Homo sapiens: one gene and its partner. The protein of the gene in region 1 interacts with the protein of each later gene in a pairwise test. Each region holds a gene or a part of one and is shown on either strand. Other genes may lie near its edges. The genes, in order: TMCC3 and TEX28.

What was found.
Region 2: the proteins of TMCC3 (region 1) and TEX28 interact in binary tests that used the Homo sapiens proteins (3 or more experiments, as listed by UniProt).

Annotation. Positions count from the first base shown.
Region 1 is NC_000012.12:94,645,042-94,656,230, reverse strand, and holds the start of TMCC3 (transmembrane and coiled-coil domain protein 3), read left to right. Parts: upstream 1-5,673; 5' UTR 5,674-5,800; coding exon 5,801-5,878; intron 5,879-6,627; exon of another isoform or gene 6,628-9,793; intron 9,794-11,189.
Region 2 is NC_000023.11:154,282,878-154,293,926, reverse strand, and holds part of TEX28 (testis-specific protein TEX28), read left to right. Parts: intron 1-1,721; coding exon of another isoform or gene 1,722-1,809; coding exon 1,810-1,821; intron 1,822-4,106; exon of another isoform or gene 4,107-4,175; coding exon of another isoform or gene 4,176-4,196; intron 4,197-5,519; coding exon 5,520-6,247; intron 6,248-11,049.

The DNA of each region.
Region 1 (11,189 bases):
TCTCCTGCCTCAGCCTCCTGAGTAGCTGGGATTACAGGTGCCCATTACCACTCCCAGCTAATTTTTGTATTTTTAGTAGAGATGGGGTTTCACCATGTTGGTCAGGCTGGTCTCGAACTCCTGACCTCAGGTGATCCACTCACCTCTGCCTCACAAAGTGCTGGGATTACAGGCGTGAGCCACTGCACCTGGCCAAGCCAAAGCATTTTAAGGTGGTTTGTCATGCAGCGATAGCAGATGGAAAATGCTGGATCTAGTGCTCTAAGGATTTAGTAAGAAGTCTTTCTCCGTTTCATGGCTCTGCTTTCCCAGGGAGGCTGTCTTTATATGGTGGAAGGATGTCCACTACAGCATCAGGCTTGCATTGTACCAGCTTAGCAATGCCCACTGGAAGGGCATAGGCTTTCCCAGCAGTTCTGACAAAAGTCTGGGGATGACTCTCATCTGCTCTGATTAGCTCATGTGCCCATCCCTGCACAAGCCACAGTGACTCTGACTGGCCAAGGCTGGATGACATGCCACTCTCTAGATCCAAGGATGGGAATGGTCCACCTTATCTAAGCCATTTGGATTAAAAGTAGGAGTAGGGTAGGTCCCAATAGAAAACCTAGGTACTGTCTTCAGAATAAGGGGTGGGATCCTGGGCAGGCTGAAACAACAAACACGCACTACAAAAGTCAAGTGTAGTCCTACCTCTTTCCATAGGCCTTTCACTCCAAACTTTAAACTATTACAGCTCAAATGACCTGGTCTCTTCTTTGGTGCTTTTAGCATCTGCTGTCTTGTTGTGCTCCTTCCTTATAGTTTGCAAGTAAATTCTTATTTCACACCTTAGGTATGAACCTTTGTATTTCTTATTGTTCTGACTGCATTTGTTATTTTAACAGTGCGATATTTTCCATACTTTCTGCAGAGAGAGGCTCTTGGAGGTATCAAAAGCACAGAATTCTTACATTGACAGGAGGAATTTGCACCTGCGCTCTCCCTCTCTCTCTCTCTCCAGGGCTGACAAAACCCTAGGCATTGGCATTGCGTCCAAAGGAGGGGATGTGGTCTATTTTCCCCTTGGGTTCTGCCTCCCAAAAGGAGACCCAGATGGTGATCAGCACTGCTTGTTTTCTTTCTGTTCTGGGGAGCTTGCTCTTCTGCTATTTAATTTGTATATTTTTAAAAAATAATTTTGTATGAGTGCCCAGCAGAGCAGCTTTTGGGCAACTAGCTTATGAAATAAATTTAAATGATCTAAAAAAGAACATCCTTTGTTAATTGACATTTAAATGAGCCTAATAAAGTTTTAATTTATCCTTCTCATTGAGGGTCAGCATTCCAGGATGGAATTCTAAGAAACATCAAGACAGTAATAGAAATGGAAAGTAGATGCCTGTTGGTACCCCCAAGCAAAGCCCAACCCTGGTTTGTCAGGGCCTCTCTGAGTTTATTCACACGTAAAGTGCTATTATGTTTATTTATTTGAGAAGGTACCCCTAACTGGTGATTTGAATTCCAGAATTAAGGATATCACCATATCTGTTCCTTTGAGACTCTGTTACCTTTAAAATTTTAAATTATTCTTCACTATTGTGTGTATGTATGAATGAATGTACATCCAGTGTACCAACAGTCATTTGTTAAAGAGCATTATATATTTATAATTGTGTACCCCTTTTCTATTGAAGCCTTCTTCATCTCCCCACCAGAGATACTGTCCTGAAATTTGTGTTTATTATCCTCTTGCTTTTCTTAAACTTTACAGGAAGGCTGGGCGTGGTGGCTCACGCCTGCAATCCAGCACTTTGGGAGGGTGAGGCGGGTGGATCACTTGAACTTGAGGCAAGGAGTTCAAGACCAGCCTGGCCAACATGGTGAAACCCCATGTCTACTAAAAACACAAAAATTAGCCGGGCATGGTGGTGCACACCTGCAATCCAGATACTCAGGAGGCCGAGGCATGAGAATCACTTTAACTTGGGAGCCAGAGGTTGTAGTGAGCTGTGATCGTGCCACTGCACTCCAGCCTGGGCGACAGAGTGAGACTCTGTCTCAAAACCAAAAACAAACAAACAAAAAAACCAACCAAACAAAAACTTTACATGAATCTTTTTTTTTTTTTTTTTGTGGAGACAAGGTCTCACTATATTGCCCAGGCTGGTCTCGAACTCCTGGGCTCAAGTGATCCTCCCACCTCAGCCTCCTAAAGTGCTGGGATTATAGACATGAGCTACCACACAGCCTACATGAATCTTACTGCAAGTAATTTTTTGTGGCTTGCTTTTTTTGTTTCTCAGTATTGTTTGTGAAATTTGTCCATATTGATTTTTTTTTTTAGCTGGAGTTTGGTCTGTGGCTTATTTTTTTACTTTATTGTTTATTTTCATAAGCAGAAGTTTAATTTTTTTAATGTCAAACCTTTGTGGTTTATGCTTTTTGTGTCTTGTTTTTTTTTTTACTTGAGATGATAATAATGATATTCTTTCATTTTCTTCTGACAATTTTAAGTTGTGTTTTTTCCACTTTAAGTCTTTAATCTGTTTTTTTTTTTTAATTTTTAATTTTTTTAGAGACAGGTCTTGCTCTGTTGCCCAGGCTGAATTCCTGGCCTCAAGTGAACCTCTTGCTTCAGCCTCCTGAACAGCTGGGATTACAGGTGCAAGCCACCATGTCCAGCTAATTTTTTTTCTTTATTTTTCCTTTATCTGGTATTGGTTTTTGTTTATGCTGTGAGGTAGAGATCAATTTTATTTTCATCCAAGTGAAAAGGTAGATCATGCCACTCCTTTGCTCAAAAATTTCCAAATCTTCCCATATTCCCCAAAATTAAAGTTCTTTCTTTTCTTTTTTTTTTTTCTTTGAGTCAGAGTTTTGCTTTTGTTGCCCAGGCTGGAGTGCAATGGCATGATCTTGGCTCACTACAACCTCTGCCTCCTGAGTTCAAGCGATTCTCCTGTCTCAGACTCCTGAGTAGCTGGGATTACAGGCATGCGCCACCATGTCCGGCTAATTTTGTATTTTTGGTAGAAACAGATTTTCTCCATGTTGGTCAGGCTGATCTTGAACTGCTGACCTCAGGTGATCGGCCCACCTCAGCCTCCTGAAGTGCTGGGATTACAGGCGTGAGCCACCACGCCCTGCCTAAAATTAAAGTTCTTAAAATAGAATGAAAGTCCATATATGATCTGGCCCTCTGAAATGTCTCTGACCTCATCTCTTTCCAGTGAACACTGGCCTCCTTGCTCTTCCTTGAACACTCCCGAAATGTTCAGGGCCCTTGACTTTCTGTTTGTCTGCTGGAAATTTTCAATGTCTATACTTCTGGCTTCCTCATTTCCCAAGTCTCTGCTCAAGGTCACCTTATCATGGAGGACTTCTCTAGCCACCCTAGCTAAAATCTCCCTCCAACACACACACACACACACACACACACACACACACACCCCAGCGTTTGGTATTTCTCTTCTTTCAAAGAACTTACCTGAAAAACTCTCTGGGTCTAGTATAGTTGTGTGTTGGGGTAGTGGTAGATGGGTATTTTTAAAAGTGTTGATTTAATTTTTTGAATGGCTTAAGGACTACATGGGACTTTCAATTTCTTCTTAAGTTAGTTTTAACCCTTTCTCTACAAAAAAATATATTTTTAAAATTAGCCAGAAATGGTGGCACACACCTGTAGTTCTAGCTACTTGGGAAACTGAAGTGGGAGGATCCCTTGAGACCAAGAATTTGAGGCTGCAGTGAGCTATGATTGTGCCACTGCACCCCAGCCTGGGCAACAGATACCCTATCTCTAAAAAACATTTTTTAAAAAATTTTACTTTCTGAATAGTTAATATATGCCCACAGTATAAACATTCAAGTTTCAAAAGTATACACAGTGAAAATTAGATCTCTCTCCATCTCTGCCTTCTAGCTACCTGGTTCCCCTCTCTTGGCATCAATTTCTTGTCTGTTTCCCTAGTTTCTTATTTATCCTCCCAGATATATGTCGTGCATGTAGAAGCACATAACATATATTGTTTTTACATAAATGGTGGAATGCCATATATATTATCCTGCACATTGCTTTTTTTCCACTGAACCATGTATGTTAGATTTGCTTCCAAAGCTATTCATAGAGGGCTGCCTCATTTCTATTCCAGTTACCTAATATTCTATTGGATGATGTACCATCATTTATTTACTTAGTCTCCTTCTGAAGGATAATTAGGCTATTCTGTCTTTACAGTGGCCTTCTAAGAAGCCAGTGTGTTTTGCCCATCTTCAATCGCTGCTTCACCCTGATGTCAGATATACCTTCTCCTTAAACTTCCATTCCCATGCTATCATTTCCCTGTTCAAGAATTTCCAACAGCTACCCAGTTCCCACAGAATAAGGCTGAACTTCTTACCCTTGAACGAAGATTCTGCATGGTCTCTGCCTTCTTTTCCATCATGTCTTCCTGTTCCTGAGGACACTCCCCAAAACTGATGACTTGAGGTTTTCCCAAATGTACCTCTGATTTTAGGGGCTCCAAAGTTTTCTTCAGCCTGCTCTACCGTCCCCTTTGAACCCTATGAGGGAAATCCTTCCCTCCCCCTGGACTGGTCACACTGGGCTCCAGGTCCTCTCTGGAACAGCTGCACTTTAAATATTTCAGCCCAGTCTCCCACTGTACACCCTACAGAGCCAGAACAGGTGTTTTGAATTTTGTTTGGGGTTACTGATATTTAAATTGTTCACCAATGGTCCTTCCTCTTCTAAACTCCAAATTCCTTGTGGGCAGGGACTGATGACTGGGAATGGGGAATACTAAAATGAAAAGATATCCTGACTTCCAAGTAGCTTAAAACATAAAGGTAAGCTGGGCACAGTGGCTCACGCCTGTAATCCCAGCACTTTGGGAGGCTAGGGCAGGTGGATCACGAGGTCGGGAGATCGAGACCATCCTGGCTAACATGGTGAAATCCCGTCTCTACTAAAAATACAAAAAAATTTAGCTGGGTGTGGTGGCAGGCGCCTGTAGTCCCAGCTACTTGGGAGGCTGAGGCAGGAGAATGGCGTGAACCCGGGAGGCGGAGCTTGCAGTGAGCCGAGATTGCGCCACTGCACTCCAGCCTGGGTGACAGAGCGAGACTCAGTCTCAAAAAAAAAAAAAAAAGAAAGAAACATAAAGGTGAGCCAGATATGCAAAATTAAAATACACAACACAGTAGGATCTTAGTTTAAGTGGAAGTATGCTCTATGCTCAGGGCAATCATGGTCGGGGGGAGTTTTTATTTTATTTCATTTTTTTACTTTAAATCTCTGGTCTCTAGTCCAGCGTCTGGTACATGGCAGCTGCCCAGTAAGTGCCTGTTGAATGGAGAATAACATAAAAAGAGGCATTTAAGGCAAGTGTCAACTTCTTGCAGTAACAGTCACCTTTTATATATAAAATAAGTCAACAGATAGTGTAGTGTGGATGTCGCTTATCTTTTGGGGAGAAAGAGGGCTGTGTGGGAGGGGATGGAATCAACTTTCAGCCAGGGAGGGAGGCGAAGACATTGCCTCCCGGGTCGGGGGTGGGTGGGGGGTCCAGGCGGCTGCGGGGCGCGGGAGAGGCGGGGAGAAGGGAAGGGGGAGGAGACTCTCGCCTCCTGCCCCGCCTCCCCCACCCCGCGGCGGCGGCGGCGCAGGGCGGCCGCGCGGGTGTTGGCACCAGAGGCAACAGCTGCAGCAGCCGCGCCGCCCCCTCGCCCGCGGCTCCCAGGGTGATCCCGAGCACAGCCGGTGGCTCGCGGCGCGGCAGCCCCAGAAGACGGGAAAGTTCGCGGCCGGAGCGCGGAGATGCCGGGCAGCGACACGGCGCTCACCGTGGACCGGACCTACTCGTACCCCGGCCGGCACCACCGCTGCAAGAGCCGGGTGAGCGCAGCGGGCTGGGGGGCGGCGGGTGCGCGCGGGCCCGGGGGCGAGGCGGGCTGGGGCGGCGGCTCAGTGCTAACCCACGCGCCCCCGGCGTTTCGCCGCCGCCCTCCGCTGCCGCCGGAGGTCCGTGCCTCCCCGATCCTCCGAGCTAAAAGGGTGGGCGTCGGGGGCGTCGGAGCCCAGGCTGCGGTTCTGGGATCCCAGGTCCGCCTGCCCCTCACGGCGCCCAGGTCCCCGCGCGCTATGCGGGACGCCCGGTTCCCCGACGGCCCGCGCTCTGCTGTCCTCCCCGCCAGGGAGCGCCCGCCGCTCCGCGAGGGAATCCCGCCACCCGGCCACCCGCGGCCCCGCGTCTCCAGGTCTCCGGGGTCTCGCCCTGGGTGTGACGGTGCCCTCCCCGCCGAACGTCCCGGCGGCCGCCCTGTCTCCCTGTCCTCGGGGCGTGTGGCCGGAACCCGAGCGCGGTGCGCAGCCGGAGCGCGGGGAGGCGGCGGACGGGCTCTGCCCAAGTGAAAAGTCAGAATCTTTGCGCTGCCTCTCCGGAGTTTCGAGCCGAGCCGAGCAGGCGCCCTCGCCATTGTTTGCAGTGTAATTTGCTGTTGCTGATTTTGGCTGTGGGCGAAAATAGCTCATTCTGAGCCTGCTGCAGAGACGAGCCCTGTAGGGCTTCAAAATAAAGACGGAGGCCGCAGCCCAAGCGCGGGTCTGTCCTGGGAGAGGAAGCCTTCGCCCTCCCCGGTGAATACCTTTGCCCTCCCGGGCTGTTGAATCGTCGAGGCTGGATGTGAGGCTCTGTAACCCGTTCTCCCCAGGGCTGATTGAAGTGCCATTTAACAAAGCACCTCCTCCACGCTGGCATCTGTTCTGGCAGGAGGCACCTGGAGTTGTTCTTTGCTCCGCCAACTACTTACTCGCTTGTCCGAGAACTGGGGATTTGGGTGTCAGCCTCTGTGTAAAGTTCACGGAGGGAGAGCCGGGCTCAGATTCTGGCCTGCCACTTCCAAGATCGAGAGACCAACTGGATGGAAATAGTAGCAATAGTGACGGGGTTGTGTCGCGGCCCTTTGTGCAGGATTTTGGTCTTCACTCATAATTTGAAGTAGTAATCGATTGCCCCAGAAGTGAAGCAATGAGTCTCTGGTTTATTTGCCCGCTTTCCCTTTTTCCTTTAGCATCTGTTAATCATTTTGGAAGGATGATTTGAGTTTTTACAGATTGAATATATTTGGTGGAATAATACCTCATGCACTCATCTCAATCTTACAATTCTCTTGTTTTTGCACTTTGTGTATAAGTTTCGTAACAGTTTGCTGTGAAAATAACCAGAAACTCCATTTGGAATAAACATTGAAGAAATGTGCTTACCCACAGGTAGACATTTCTTCTTGGATAGCTGTAATGCTAGTTAACAGAACTATGAAGAAAAGGAGATCATCTTCGAATGCATTTGTAATTGAGAGGATTCTGTAAAGTTAATATTGCAGACTTGAAATGTGAAAGCTTGTTTTTTCTTGTCACAACTGTGATCTTCTTTGTGTAAACAAGATTAGTAATCTTAGCGGGATGGATGGCTCATTGTCAACTCATTTAAGTGGTTTGGCAAAACTCATGCAACTTTACAAAACTCACTCTTCATAACCTGTAAAATGGTGGTGATAAAGTTTGTGCCTCAACTGCTTAGGTGGAATGTGGTAAAGCAATTGTGTAAGGTAACTGCAGAGTGTTTCTGCCGCATCTGCCACTGTTGCCTGTCTACGCCAGTCTTTTCTATTAAAAGGTCAAAACCTTATGTGATTTCTTGATTTTCTTTAAAATTCTGCTGACGGGCCGGGGGCGGTGGCTCATGCCTGTAATCCCACCACTTTGAGAGGCCGAGATAGGTGGATCACCAGGTCAGGAGTTCAAGACCAGCCTGGCCGAGATGGTGAAACCCTGTCTCTACTAAAAATACAAAAATTAGCCGGGCGTGGTGGTGGGCGCCTGTAATCCCAGCTACTCGGGAGGGTGAGGCGGAGAATCACTTGAACCCGGGAGGCGGAGGTTGCAGTGAACCGAGATCGCGTCAGCCTGGGCACAGAGCGAGACTCTGTCTTTAAATAAATAAATAAATAAATAAATAAATAAATAAAACAATTCTACTGACAATGTTATTGTACCTGCTGCCTTGTATTGTTAGCATGGAGATACCCGATTTTTAAATAAGCTGTGTATTAAAACTGAGTTAGACATTATATGTGCGGATTATCGTAAATTAGCACATTGGGCCAGTCAGATCTAGTGAAGAGAGGAAATCAGAGAAGGGCTAGAACTTCAGCAGACCGTAATCACAAATTCTACTACAGTGATGCTGGACTTCTTGAGGTCCCAGTTGAAACTTCTCAGCTATCTGCTTTTAGGTTTTTTATTGTTGAGACAGCGAGGAATAGGTAGAACTAGTGAAATTTTTGTAAACTCATAATAATAACTTTTCTCAAGCAGGGTTGATGTAATTTCAAGTCTGTCCTGAGGCTACAATAAGTCTGTTGTAATGAAGGGAAAGCAACAATTTTACTGTGCAGAAAGTATTCATCCATTTAAATGATCGTAGCTCCTGTATTGTGGAACTCACTTGGATGCAGCTGTAAAGATATGTTTTCCTGACACCCAGAACGTATGTGATGCGAGAGGAAGACATCGAGTGCTAATTTCTTGATGTCACCATCTCCTTGGGAGGAAACTAGTATAGGATTTAAAAAGAACCCTTTTATGAACTCATTTGGTGAATTAGCTCCCCTAAAAATGCCAATGAGAACTAGGGGGTCATGGGAAGAGTCGACTAATCTTTCAGGGATATGGAGTTTCTGCCTAGAAGTGGGCAAAGACTCCATGAGATGAAGTTCTTAGTTACTGAATGGTCATTTTTTAAATTCAAAATCAATACCTGTTGAGATAACAGGGAAACTACATGGTCTGTCTTGCTGGGCTTATTTCAGCCTTTGAGACTGGAATAATAATGAGGCAGTGTACTCTTTCAACATTGCAGAAATCTATTTTTACATCTAGGTGGACTGACCTAGATAACCCCTCCCCCCTTAGTGAAAATGTAAGTAATGAATTCTGTGATTGTTGCTAAGCTGACAAGTCAGGATCATTCACATTTTAAAACTTCATCTTTGTAAAACTCAGAAATGGTGCTTGTTAACTTGATGCACATATCTCTCTACTTTAGAAGAAAGAGCATCCATAATTAGACTCCTACTTTTTTTTCATGCCCTAGATAGTTAAAGCCTATCATCTTTTTAAGAATACAGGCCGTCTGCTTTCTATACAGTAACTGGCTTTTATTAATGATGTGTGAATTAGGTTTTCTTTTAGTTGGTTTTCATTTTAAGTGTTCTAAAATGCCCTCTCCAGCCACTTGAGTATAGTGGTGGACAGCTGGGGCTCTGGACCTACGTGGGTTGTATTCTGGCTCTTCGAGCTTCTTAACTGGGTGACCACTGGGGCAAGGTCCTAAATAGCCTTTCTGAGCCTCCAGTTTCCCATCTGTAAAAGAGGTAATACTCCACTCTTCTGGGAGTGATTGTGTGTCTTAAATAAGAAAGTATTTGTTTTTTAAAAAAAAAAAAAAAAGCCAGGCACGGTGGCTCACGCCTGTAATCCCAGGACTTTGGGAGGCCGAGGCAGGTGGATCACCTGAGGTCAGGAGTTCAAGACCAACCTGGCCAACATGTTGAAACCCTGTCTCTACTAAAAATACAAAAATTAACCAGGCATGGTGGCAGGTGCCTGTAATCCCAGCTACTCGGAAGGCTGAGGCAGGAGAATCTCTTGAACCCGGGAGGCGGAGATTGCAGAGAGCTGAGATCGTGCCATTGCACTCCAGCCTGGGGGACAAGAGTGAGACTTCCTCTCAAAAAAAAAAAAAAAAAAAAAAAAGGTGTGTGCTTTCAAATATTAGCTATTTAAAAAAATTTTTTTAAATTTATGTTCTCTCACTGGGTGAAAAAGCTGTATTTGTCTATATGTCAGGTTAATAATTTTTTTCTATTTTGTTGGTGCCACTACTAATCAGAACTGCTAGTCATCTTGAGTGCCTGCCCTCCCCCATCTCTCTAACCTATTAGCAATACCACCGCACCTTTCTCTGACATTTCTCTGGAATTGGTTTCTTCCATATCTCCCAATCATCCCCCACCTTAGTCACTTATGACCTTCACCAACTTCTGTTCCATCCTGCATGCAAGGACCATATTATTTTCCCTACAGAACCATTTGCATTAGGATAGTCCCCAGAATACAGATCTTGTACCAGTGCTGTTTGCTACCAGTGTAATCTTGGATCCTGTAATCACTCTAAGCCTTAGTTCCTACTTCTACATAATAGGGGTGTTTTGAGGAATAAATTCAGTAATGTCTATAAAATGTTTAACTCCATGCCGGGTGCACAATAAGAAATCAATAGATGTTAACCACTTTTACTATAGGCCGAGCATCTCAATCCAAAAGCCAAAATCCAAAACTTTTTGAGCGTCAACATGACGCTCAAAGGAAATGCTTACAGGAGCATTTCTGATTTCAGATATTTCTATTTGGAATGCTCAACCAGTAAGTATAATACAAAGATTCCTAGGCCGGGCATGGTGGCTCATGCCTGTAATTCTAACACTTTGGGAAGCCAGGTGGGTAGATCACTTGAGTTCAGGAGTTTGAGACCAGCTTGGCCAACATGGTAAAATCCGGTCTCTACTAAAAATACAAAAAAATTAGCTCGGCATGGTGGCAGGTGCCTGTAATCCCAGCTACTAGGGAGGCTGAGGCAGGAGAATCGCTTGAACCTGGGAGGCAGAGGTTGCAGTGAGCCAGGATTGTGCCATTGCACTCCAGCCTGGGCAACAGAGGGAGACTCCATCTCCGAAACAAAACTAAACAAAACAAATTCCAAAATCTGAAATCTGAAACACTTCTAGTTCCAAGCATTTTGAATAGGGGACCTGTACTATATGAAAGAGGGATTTGTGAGCTTAGAAACGGAAAGGCTGCTAATTTTGTGAAAAGTATAGACTTTTCTAGCATTGCTAGCATTTTGTGCCTCCTTGCGTCATGTTTCTCATGACATTGACTGTTTATATGTTTAATGCTTACATGTATTTATAAACTATAGACATTGGCACTTTGAGAGCAAGATGCTTCGTTTATTCAAAAAATACTTACTGAGCACCTTCTGTGTGCTGGCTGCTGATCTAGGCATCAGGAATACAATGGTAAATGAAACAGTCTGGTCTCTGTGGAAACTTAATATCTGGTGGGTGTATCTCATTTATTCTTG
Region 2 (11,049 bases), on another chromosome or scaffold:
TGAGAAAATAGTATTTAATTGTTGCTTTTCGCTTACTATTCCCGGATCACCTTGCAATTACATGTTTTATTATACGTTTACTGTCTTTTGTTTTTCGTCGTCTGAGATGTCCGTGGCTACCCTTTAATGTCTTTATATTGGGTTATTTGCTCTTAGTTTACTGATTTGCAGTTCTTTATATATTGTGTTGATTAGCCCTTTATCTATCAGATATGTTTCAAGCCTTTTTTTTTCTTGTTTGCTTTTATTTATTTATTTTTTGAGATGGGGTCTCAGTCTGCCACCCTGGCTGGAGGGCAGTGGTGCGATCATGGCAGCCTCGACATCCCCGGGATCAAGCGATCCTCCCGTCTCAGCGTCCTGGGTAGCTGGGACTACAGGTGTGCACCACCACTCCAGGATAATTGTTGTATTAATTTTTTTTTTAATAGAGACGGGGTTTCGCCATGTTGCCCAGGCTGGTCTTGACCTCCTGAGCTCAAGAGATCCACCCACCTTGGCTTCCAAAGTGCTGGGATTACAGGCATGAGCCAGCACACCCAGCCCTTGTTTTTTTTTCTCCCCCTTTCTTTCTTTCTTTTTTGTTTTTGTTTTGATTAATCAAGTCCCATTTTTTTCTCCTCTTGGTTATTTGGATGTTATGTACATATGTAGCTTCTTTTCTAGTGATTACTTTTTTTTTTTTTTTTGAGACAATCTCACTCTTGTCAGTCAGGCTGGAGTGCAGTGGCGCAGTCTCGGCTCACTGCAACCTCCGTCTCCCCGGCTCAAGCAATTCTCCTGCCTCAGCCTCCCCAGTAGCTGGGATTACAGGTGTGTGCCACCATGCCCGGCTAATTTTTGTATTTTTAGTAGGGACAGTGTTTCGCAGTGTTGACCATGATGGTCTCAAACTCCTGACCTCAAGTGATCCACCCGCCTTGGCTTCCCAAAGTGCTGGGATTACAGCTGTGAGCCACCACGCCCGGCCCGGCCCCCCCCCCCCGCTCTTTTTTTTTTGAGACAAGGTCTCACTCTGTCACCCAGGTTGGAGGGCAGTAGCACAGTCACAGGTCACTGCAGCCTCTACTTGCTGGGCACAAGTAATCCTCCTGCCTCAGCATCCTGAGTAGCTGGGACCACAGGTGCACACCACTGCCCTGGCAAGACTTGCTTTTTAAACAGTTGTTGAATTCTTACATTTGTCAGTGGTGTACTGAACTCCTTCATGTCTAAAAATGTCTTTAGTCTAACCCCACAGTTGACAGTTGGGGTGTAGAATTTTAGGCTGGGAAATCATTTTTCCCTCAGAATTTCGAAAGCAGCACTTCATTGTCTTTTTTTTTTTTTTTTTTTTTTTTTTTTTGGGACAGAGTCTTGCTCTGTCGCCCAGGCTGGAGTACAGGGGAGTGATCCTCGGCTCACTGCAACCTCTTGGGTTCAAGCGATTCTCTTGCCTCAGCCTCCCGAGTAGCTGGGATTACAGGCGCCCACCACAATGCTGGCTAATTTTTGTATTTTTAGTAGAGACAGAGTTTCCTCATGTTGGCCAGCCTGGTCTCAAACTCTTGACTTCAAGTGATCCGCCTGCCTGGGCTTCCCAGAGTGCTGAGATTACAGGTGTGAGCCACCGTGCCCGGCCAGCACTTCATTGTCTTCTAGTTCCCCATGCTGTTGCTGAAGTCTGAAGCCATTCTGACTTCTGATTCTTTGAATGTGACCTATTTTTTTCTCTCTGACAGTTATTCTCTCAGTGTATCGAAGATATCAGTCAACTATCTTCTGGATTGCATTGATGCTATTGAGAAGGCAGCCTGCAGTCTAAAAGTCATGGTTTTAAAGGTAATCAGCTTTTTTTCCTCTGGCTGCTTTTAACATCTTGTGTCGGCCGCGGGCGGTGGCTCATGCTTGTAATCCCAGCACTTTGGGAGGCCGAGGTGGGCGGATCATTTGAGGTCAGGAGTTCCAGACCAGCCTGGCCAACATGGTGAAACACTGTCTCTACTAAAAATACAAAAATTAGCTGGGCATGGTGGCGGGCGCCTGTAGTACCAGCTACTTGGGAGGCTGACGCAGGAGAATCGCTTGAACCCGGGAGGCAGAGGTTGCAGTGAGCCGAGATCACGCCACTGTACTCCAGCCTGGGCGACAAGAGCGAAACACTGTTTCAAAAAAAAAAAAAAAAAAAAAAATCTCGTGTCTAGGTGTGGACCTATTTCTGTCTTCCCTGCTTAGGATTTATTGGGCTTCTTGAATTTGTGAATTTGTGTCTTTCTTCAGTTCTGGAAAGTTCTTAGGGAGTTATCTCTTAAAATGTTGCTGCTGTGGCCGGTCGTAGTGGCTCATGCCTGTAATCCCAGCACTTTGGGAGGCCGAGGTGGGTGGGTCACCTGATGTTGAGAGTTCGAGAACAGTCTTGCCAACATGATGAAACCCCATCTCTACTAAAAATACAAAAGAATTAGCTAGCTGTGATGGCACGCGCCTGTAGTCCCAGCTACTCGGGAGGCTGAGGCACGAGAAGTGCTTGAACCCGGGCAGCAGAGGTCGGCCGTGAGCCGAGATTGTGCCACGGCACTCCGCCTAGGCAACAGAGTGTGACTCCATTTCAATTTAAAAAAAAAAGAAGAAAAATATGTATATATTGCTGCTGCTTCATTCTGTCTGTCTTCTCTCTCTGGTGTGACAATTGGATTTTTGTTAGACCTACTCATGCTACCTTCCATGTCTTCTATTTTTCAAGTTTTCTATTTTTTTGTGCCTCTGTGCTGCATTCTGGATACTTTTTTTTCTTTCTTTCTTTTCTCTTTCTCTCTCTCTCTCTCTCTCTCTCTCTCTCTTTCTTTCTTGGGATGGAGTTTTGCTCTTGTTGCCCAGGTTGGAGTGCAGTGGCGTGATCTCGGCTCACTGCAACCTCTGCCTCCTGGGTTCAAGCCATTCTCCTGCCTCAGCCTCCCAAGTAGCTGGGATTACAGGTGCCCACCACCATGCCCAGTTAATTTTTTGTATTTTTTAGTAGAGACAGGGTTTCACCATGTTGGTCAGGTTAGCCTCAAACTCCTGACGTCAGGTGATCCACCCGCCTTGGCCTCCCAAAATGCTGGGATTACAGGCGTGTGAGCCACCGCGCCCGGCCTGGATACTTTCTTTAGCTCCTCTGTACAATTTACCAACAGTCTCTCCAGCCATATCAAATCTGCCATTAAATCCATCAATTGAACATATTATTATTTATTATTTATTTATTTTTTGAGACGGAGTCTCACTCTACCACCCAGGCTGGAGTGCAGTGGCACGATCTCAGCTCACTGCAACTTCTGCACCCCGGGTTCAAGCGGTTCTCCTGCCTCAGCCTCCCGAGTAGCTGGGACTACAGGCGTGTGCCACCACGCCTGGCTAATTTTGTATTTCTAGTAGAGATGGGGTTTCTCTGTGTTGGTCAGGCTGGTCTTGAACTCCCGACCTCAGGTGATCCGCCCGCCTCGGCCTCCCAAAGTGCTGGAAGTACAGGTGTGAACCACTGTGCCAGGCATTTTTTTTTTTTTTTTTGTATTTTGTATAGACGGGGTTTCACCATGTTGGCCAGACTGGTCTTGACCTCCTGACCTCCGCCCGCCTCGGCCTCCCAAAGTGCTGGGATTACAGGCATGAGCCACCACACCTGGCCTATATTGAACATTTAAATAGTTTGAAAACTGTGAAATCTGGCATATGTATATAAAGGTGCAGAAAACATTGATGTATGTTTTAAGAAGTAACGATAAGGTGAACACACATTTAACCACTACTCAGGCCAGGCACCCCAGCCTCCACAGTCACCCCAGTCATAATCCCCTTCTCCCGCTCTAGTGGGAACCACCATCCTGGGGTTTCTGTTGCCAACATCCATGCTGCTCTTTAGCTTTCCTGCCTGTGTAGTCATCCCTACACAATATTGTTTAGTTTTGCCTGCTCTTGGAATTTATGTAAATGGAACCATATATAGTATGGATTTTCTGTCTGGTTTCTTTTGTTCAACATTATGCTTGTGAAATGCATTCATGTTTTTCAAGGCTGTAGTTCATTCTCATTGCTGTACAGTAGTATGTTGTTGCATATATTACAGTTTACTTACACTTTCTGGGCAGGTGGTTTGTTGCTAGTTGTTGGATATTGAGAACATCAGTGTACTTGCCTCCTGGGAATATCGCCTATGAATGCAGTTGCTGGATCATTTGGTAGGTATATCTTCAACTTTGTGATACTGTCAAGTGGTTTTCTAAGGTGGCTGTAGTACAAATTTGCTTCCCGCCAGTAATGATTGAGAGTTCCTGTTGCGCTATATCCTTGCCAACTCTTATTGTTGTTAGTCTGTCTGAGTTTGACCAATCTACTGGGTACATAGTGGTATCACTTTGCATTTTAAAAATTGAGGTATAGGCCAGATGCAGTGGCTCACACCGGTAATCCCAGCACTCTTTGGGAGGCCGAGGCGGGAGGATCACTTGAGGTCAGGAGTTGGAAACCAGCCTGGTCAACATGGTGAAACCCTGTCTCTACTAATAATACACGAATTAGCTGGGTGTGGTGATGCACACCTGTAATCCCAGCTACTCGGGAGGCTGAGCCATGAGAATTGCTTAAACCCGGGAGGCGAAGGTTGTAGTGAGCCGAGATTGCACCACTGCACTCCAGCCTGGGTGACAGAGTGAGACTCCGTCTCAAAAAACAAAAAAGTAGAAACGGAACAGAGGCTGCACCTGAGCTGCCCCCCACCTCCCTCTCCTAGCTCCTTGCTCTGGTGGGCTGGGTTCCAGCTATGCTGCTCTTGCCATCTTTATTTTAGAGGTAAGAAAACTGAGCCTCAGAGCAGTTTATTAACTTGCTCAAGGTCTCAGAGTGGTAGAGCCAGGATTTGAACTGGGCTCTTCGTCAAAGGCAATGTTAATCCCCTCACCATGTGAGAGACTCATTCTTTTGTGTTACAGTAGAATTTTCTGCCGTAGACTGTCAGCTGTATGAGATCAAGGAATGTATCTGGCTTCTGTACCACGTGGTAGGCACTCAGAGAAAGTATGTGTTGAATGAATGATTGGATGAATGAATGAACCTGTTAGGAGGCAAATCTCTCTGCCTAACCCTTCCTGTCTCCCTGGGAGTAGCAATACAGCAAGCTGTAAGAGTTGACGGAAATAAGCTTATTCCATACTTTACAAGAACAGTTCTTTATAAATGAGACCCACAATTGGTAATTTTTGGAAGAGAAAATAGGAGTGCAGTGCAAAAACAGGCAGATGTAGAAGGGAGTCTGGCCACCTGTGGGTCTTAGTGAGGCACACATGTAGAGCAAGGAGTCAGACGCTGAAAAGGAGGGGAGAGGGGCCCTGAAGATGAGCATCACCTCCTCAGTCTGTGTCGGGCCCATCTTGAATGCACAAATCTTGCGTGTGTAAGTATCCATGCATATGTGGAAGTGTTTTATGGAGTCATAACGTGTCCAATTCTCCCACACTTTGCGGCTCACAGAGCACCGTATTGTGATTTCTTGTTTCCCAACGTAGGCGGAACACACCAGGAGCCCCAGCGCAACCCTCCCCTCCAATGTGCCTTCATGCCGGTCCCTGTCATCCAGCGAAGACGGCCCCAGTGGCCCTTCCAGCCTCGCAGATGGAGGCCTAGCCCACAACTTACAGGATAGTGTCAGGCACCGCATCCTCTACCTCTCAGAGCAGCTGAGAGTGGAGAAGGCCAGTCGGGATGGCAACACTGTGAGCTACCTCAAGCTGGTATCCAAAGCAGACCGGCACCAGGTGCCGCACATCCAGCAGGCCTTTGAGAAGGTGAACCAGCGCGCCTCTGCCACCATCGCCCAGATCGAGCACAGGCTCCACCAGTGTCACCAGCAGCTCCAGGAGCTGGAGGAAGGCTGCAGGCCCGAGGGCTTACTGCTGATGGCAGAAAGCGACCCAGCCAACTGCGAGCCACCCAGTGAGAAGGCCCTGCTTTCAGAGCCCCCCGAGCCAGGTGGGGAAGACGGGCCGGTCAACCTGCCTCATGCCAGCAGGCCCTTCATCTTGGAGAGTCGCTTCCAGAGCTTACAGCAGGGGACGTGCTTAGAGACAGAGGATGTGGCCCAGCAACAAAACCTGCTGTTGCAGAAGGTAAAGGCAGAGCTGGAAGAAGCCAAGAGGTTCCACATCAGCCTCCAGGAGTCCTATCACAGCCTAAAGGAGAGGTCTCTGACTGACCTGCAGCTGTTGCTGGAGTCCCTTCAGGAGGAGAAGTGTAGGTGAGGCCTTGGCTCTGGGGACTGGAAGCAGAGGAGGAACCGCTCCCAGGAGCCACCTATGGGAGGGTGAAAGGGAGCCAGGACAGGAGCCTGGAGAGCCAGGGTGAGGGGCCAGTTGGAAGAGCAGGTCCATGCTTCTTTTAGCGACTGGGCCCTGCAGTGGGGCGAGCCAGCCCTCTCCCTGCAGTCCCACACCTGCCTTGACCCTTGCTAGCGAAAATGCTCCAGCTTGGCAGCCCCTGCCGGGTGGTTGCAGCGGCATAGCGGCTGGCCCTGACCCTGTGGTGGCAGGGGACAACATGGGGGTGGCAAGAGTCCGGTAGACACCTGGCACTAGTTAGGGAGGTGGCGTCCTTTGGTCCCAGTCGGCTGGGAAGGTGGGAGTCAGGACCGGAGTCGCCTCGCCAGCTCTGGTCTCTTCACATGTGCTCCTAGCTGAGCTGGGGCACAGGCCGGGTCTCAGATACTTATTTCAAAAATGACTGCCTTCTGGTGAATGCTTTCTCCGCACCGTGCAGTAGCTCGATTTTCTTTTTCTTTTTTTTCTTTTGAGATGGAGTCTCACTCTGTCGCCAGACTGGAGTGCAGTGGCACGATCTCGGCCCACTGCAACCTCCACCTCCCGGGTTCAAGCGATTCTCCTGCCTCAGCCTCCCGAGTAGCTGGGAATACAGGCGTGCACCAGCACATCCGGCTATTTTTTGTATTTTTAGTACAGGCGGGGTTTCACCATGTTGACCAGGATGGTCTCAATCTATTGACCTCGTGATCCGCCTGCCTCAGCCTCCCAGAGTGCCGGGATTACTGGTGTGAGCCACCTCACCCTGCCCTAGCTCGATTTTCTTTCCCTCTAAGATAAGGCTAGGGCCTACCAATTGGAGGAAAAAAAAAAAAAAAAAAAAAAAGGCAAACCCAATCTCTCAACGGATTCTCTCCATTCCTATTGGGACCGTTCTCTGGGTTTCCATGGGCCCTCAGGGGGTGCCACATTCTGTCCCCCTCGCTGCAGTCTGTGGCTAATTAACGCCAGTCCCTCCAGCGTCCTGGCTAGGGAGGCAGCGATTCCCTTAGGTGAGCCAAGATTCTCAGCATTTGCATGAAAAGAAGAACTCCGCAGTCCTTTTAGTGCCTGATGCAGGGGAAGCGGCGTGTGGGAATCATCCTCTTTAGTTTCCCCAGGGAAATCTTGCCAGCGTTTACATGGCCTAAGAATCTGTTAAAGGACAATCAAAGAATATTACAGGGCAACCACTGTCAATGAGATGACTAGTCAGAGTCACAGGCGTCTCTTGCAGATTATTTTCATAGGACATGGCAACCAAATCTAAAATCTTGGGAGCATCAAAGACCCTTTTGTGAAAATCACACTTACCCGGTCAGCTTTCTATTAAGCAACAGCAGAACTTGGTGGCAGTTACAAACTTCCCCGTATGTTTCCAAGCCACAGGGGCCAATGAGAATGCTGTGCTCAGGTAAACTCTTAACCCCTCTCAAATCCGAGTCTTTCGCCCGCTCTTGATACAGCGGTGACTACCGGGGAGCAGGGCAATACCTCTGTCTCTCCCCCTCTCAGACTTTTGCTGCAAATTCTAGAAGCCTGCACTTCTGACCCGGTACCCCCCATTGGACTGTGACATGGGATGTCTGGTTGTTTGCTGCAGCAGCGAGCCTACCCTTACTAATGTTCATCGTGAGCAGAAAAGCAGGTCTACAGGGCCCAAGCAGGTCTACAGGAGGAGAAAGGGCTGCTGATGATTTTTCACTGTTGTCACGGGCTCGTAACTGAGCTGGGGCACCAGGTTAAGCAGCCTTGTTCTTTGGCCCTCAGACGCCTACTTTATGGTTGGGGAAGCAGAGTCTCACGGAGGCACAAGCAGGCTACGTGGCTGCTAAGTGCGGACCTGAGAGCATTTCACCACACCCTGGCTGTGTGGCTAAGTTAGATGCAGGGGACACAGGAGTTCATGGCATTTTAAAAACATATACTTCCGTAAAATCTTCTTCAAAACTTTTACATGATCTGGACACAGAAGTGTTTCAACCAGCCAGGCTCCCTGTGACTGTTGCGTCCCCTCTGGTGCATCACAAACTGAGAATCCATACTGCAAGTCCTGTGCTGTTTATCACAGTTAAATCCGTTTGCTTTCAGGAGGGCTGTTGTGGTTTTTATCATTATGGTTTCTTTTTAATTTGGTCTCGGCATGTCTCTACTGAGAGTGGCCATAGCCGAGATACCCAGTTTCTAGGAGATCCCTGACCCGTGGGAAAGTTAGGTTCGGATGTGTGTGTCAGGGGAGCCACAGTGAGGAGGCAGACGAAAATGCATGAAACAGCAGAAATGGGCTGGGCGTGGGGGCTCACGCCTGTAATCCTAGCACTTTGGGAGGTTGAGGTGGGCAGACTGCTTGAGCTCAGGAGTTTGAGACCAGCCTGGGCAACATAGTGAGACCCGGTATCTACAAAAACATCAAAAAATTAGCTGGGCGTGATGGCGCGTGCCTGTAGTCACAGCTACTCAGGAGGCTGAGCGGGAGCGGGGATCCCTTGAGCCCGGGAGGTTGAGGCTGCAGTGAGTCATGATTGCACCACTGCACTCCATTCTGGGTGACAGAGCAAGACCCTGTGTCAAAAAAAAAAAAAAAAAAAAAGAAATGTATGACTCAGATCGAAGAGATGTTAGGTGTGCTGATGGGAGGCAGAGGGGAAGTCTGGAGGCAGCAGGGAGCTGATTGAGCTCATCAGCTGTGCAACAGCGAAGCCCAGAACGGAAGGGCGGGGAAGCTTCCGGGGCTGTGCCTGTATTAAGGTCACAGGGTGTGAAGTGATCCCACAGGCTTTCCTGCGGGGGTTGTGGATTGGCTGGTTTAAAGAAAACATGCACGAGGAGGAAACTGATTTACATGACTCTGGTGTTGAGCATTAGGTCTTATCGTGGTCAGCAGCCGTGGGATGTGTTGGGTTTTGGGTCAGTGAGGCGAGGACCACGTGGGCTATGTCGCAAACAATCACATGACAGGGAGGGAGGGGTGTTATCTAGGGCAAAGGTGACAGGGTACAACTGCTAAAGTTGGATGCTGAGGCAGCAACTGTATTAAACGCATTTATGACAAGGGCTTACTTAAAAAAATTGATGTAGAATTCACATAATTTCACGTAATGTGAAATTAACCATTTGGAAGCATGTAATTCAGTGCATTAAGTACATCTGCAGTGTGGTTCAACCATCACCTCTGTCCGGTTGTCTAACATTCTCATCACCCCAGAAGGAGACCTCCAGACTCACTACACGGTCACTCCTAGCCTCGGCTCCAGGCGTTCCCTAATCTGCTTTCTGTCTCCGTGGGTTTGCCTCTTCTGGACTTTTCATATAAATGGGACCATACGATATGTGGGCTTTTGTGTCTAGCTCCTTTCACTGTTTTCAAGGTTCACTAATGTTGTAGCACGTATCAGTACTTCATTCTCTTGACGGCTGACTAATATTCCAGTGCATGGGTAGACCACATTTTGTTTATCTGTCCATCAGTGGATGGAGATTTGAGTTGTTTCCACCTTTTGGCTATTGTGAGAAGCCCTGCGCTGAACACTCAGATACATGCCAGTTGTTTGAACACCAGTTTTCAATTCTTTGGGGTCTATAATCAGGAGTAGAATTGCTGGACCCCGTGGTGACTCCAGGTGTAGCGTTTAGAGGAGTCTTCCCACAGCAGCCGCGCAGCTCCATCTTCCCACCAGCAATGCAGAAGGCTTCCAGTTGCCTCACATCCTTGCCAACATTTGTTGTTATCCTTTTTTTTTTTTTCCAACAGATGTAACTGTGAAGTGGTATCTCATTATGAGGGCTGGCTTTCTTTTTTATTTTTCCTGAGTCTTTGGATAGGCAAAAGTTCTTTCTTTCTTTCTTTCTTTCTTCTTTTTCTTTTTCTCTCTTTCTTTCCATCTCTCTCTCTCTTTCTTTCTTTTTCTTTCTCTCTTTCTCTTTCTTCCTTTCTCTCTGTCTCTCTCTCTCTCTCTCTATCTCTCTTTCTTTCTTTCTTTTTCTTCAGGGTCTCTGTTGCCCAGGCTGCATGCAGTCATAGTTCACTACAGCCTTGAACTCCCGGGCTCAAGCGATCTTCCTGCCTCAGCCTCCCGAGTAGCTGGGAGTACAAAGCATGTGCCACCATGCCTGGCTAACTTTTTAAAAATTATTATTATTTGTAGAGATGGGATCTTGCTATGTTGCCCAGGCTGGTCTTGAACACCTGGCCACGGCCTCCCCAAGTACTGGGGTTACAGATGTGAGCCACTGTGCCTGGACAGTTCTTACTTTTTAATGCATTTTTTAATTGATTGTGGTAAAAAAAAAAAAACCCACAATATATTCTTTTTGATTCTGCGACGTGCAGGGTCTCTATCACAGCAACAATTAGACTCAGGAGGCTTGGGGCTGGCCCTGGGGTCTCCTCCTTCATGAGGTCTGGGTTTGTAGGTCCTTGCAGAGGACGTTCCTGGGTCCTGGAAGGACTGTGACTGCTTCCGCTGGAGTTGCTTGAGGCCCCTGGTAACTCTCCTCTCTGTGTGCTGAGGAGAAGCACGGGCGTCGCGAACTTGATGATTCTGGATGGAAGGGTCTTTGCCAAGCTTCCCTTTCTTTCTTGTGGAAATAGGAGGAGCTTCAGATCTCCGAGAAGATGCACAGTGAGCGGCCTACCTCCTCAGCACAAGCCAGTCTCCTGGGGGACCAGAAGGCCCCGGTCCCTCAGTTTCTTCGTGGGTCAGGAGGAAAGAAGGCTTGAGAAACTCAGAAAATGTTCATTGGT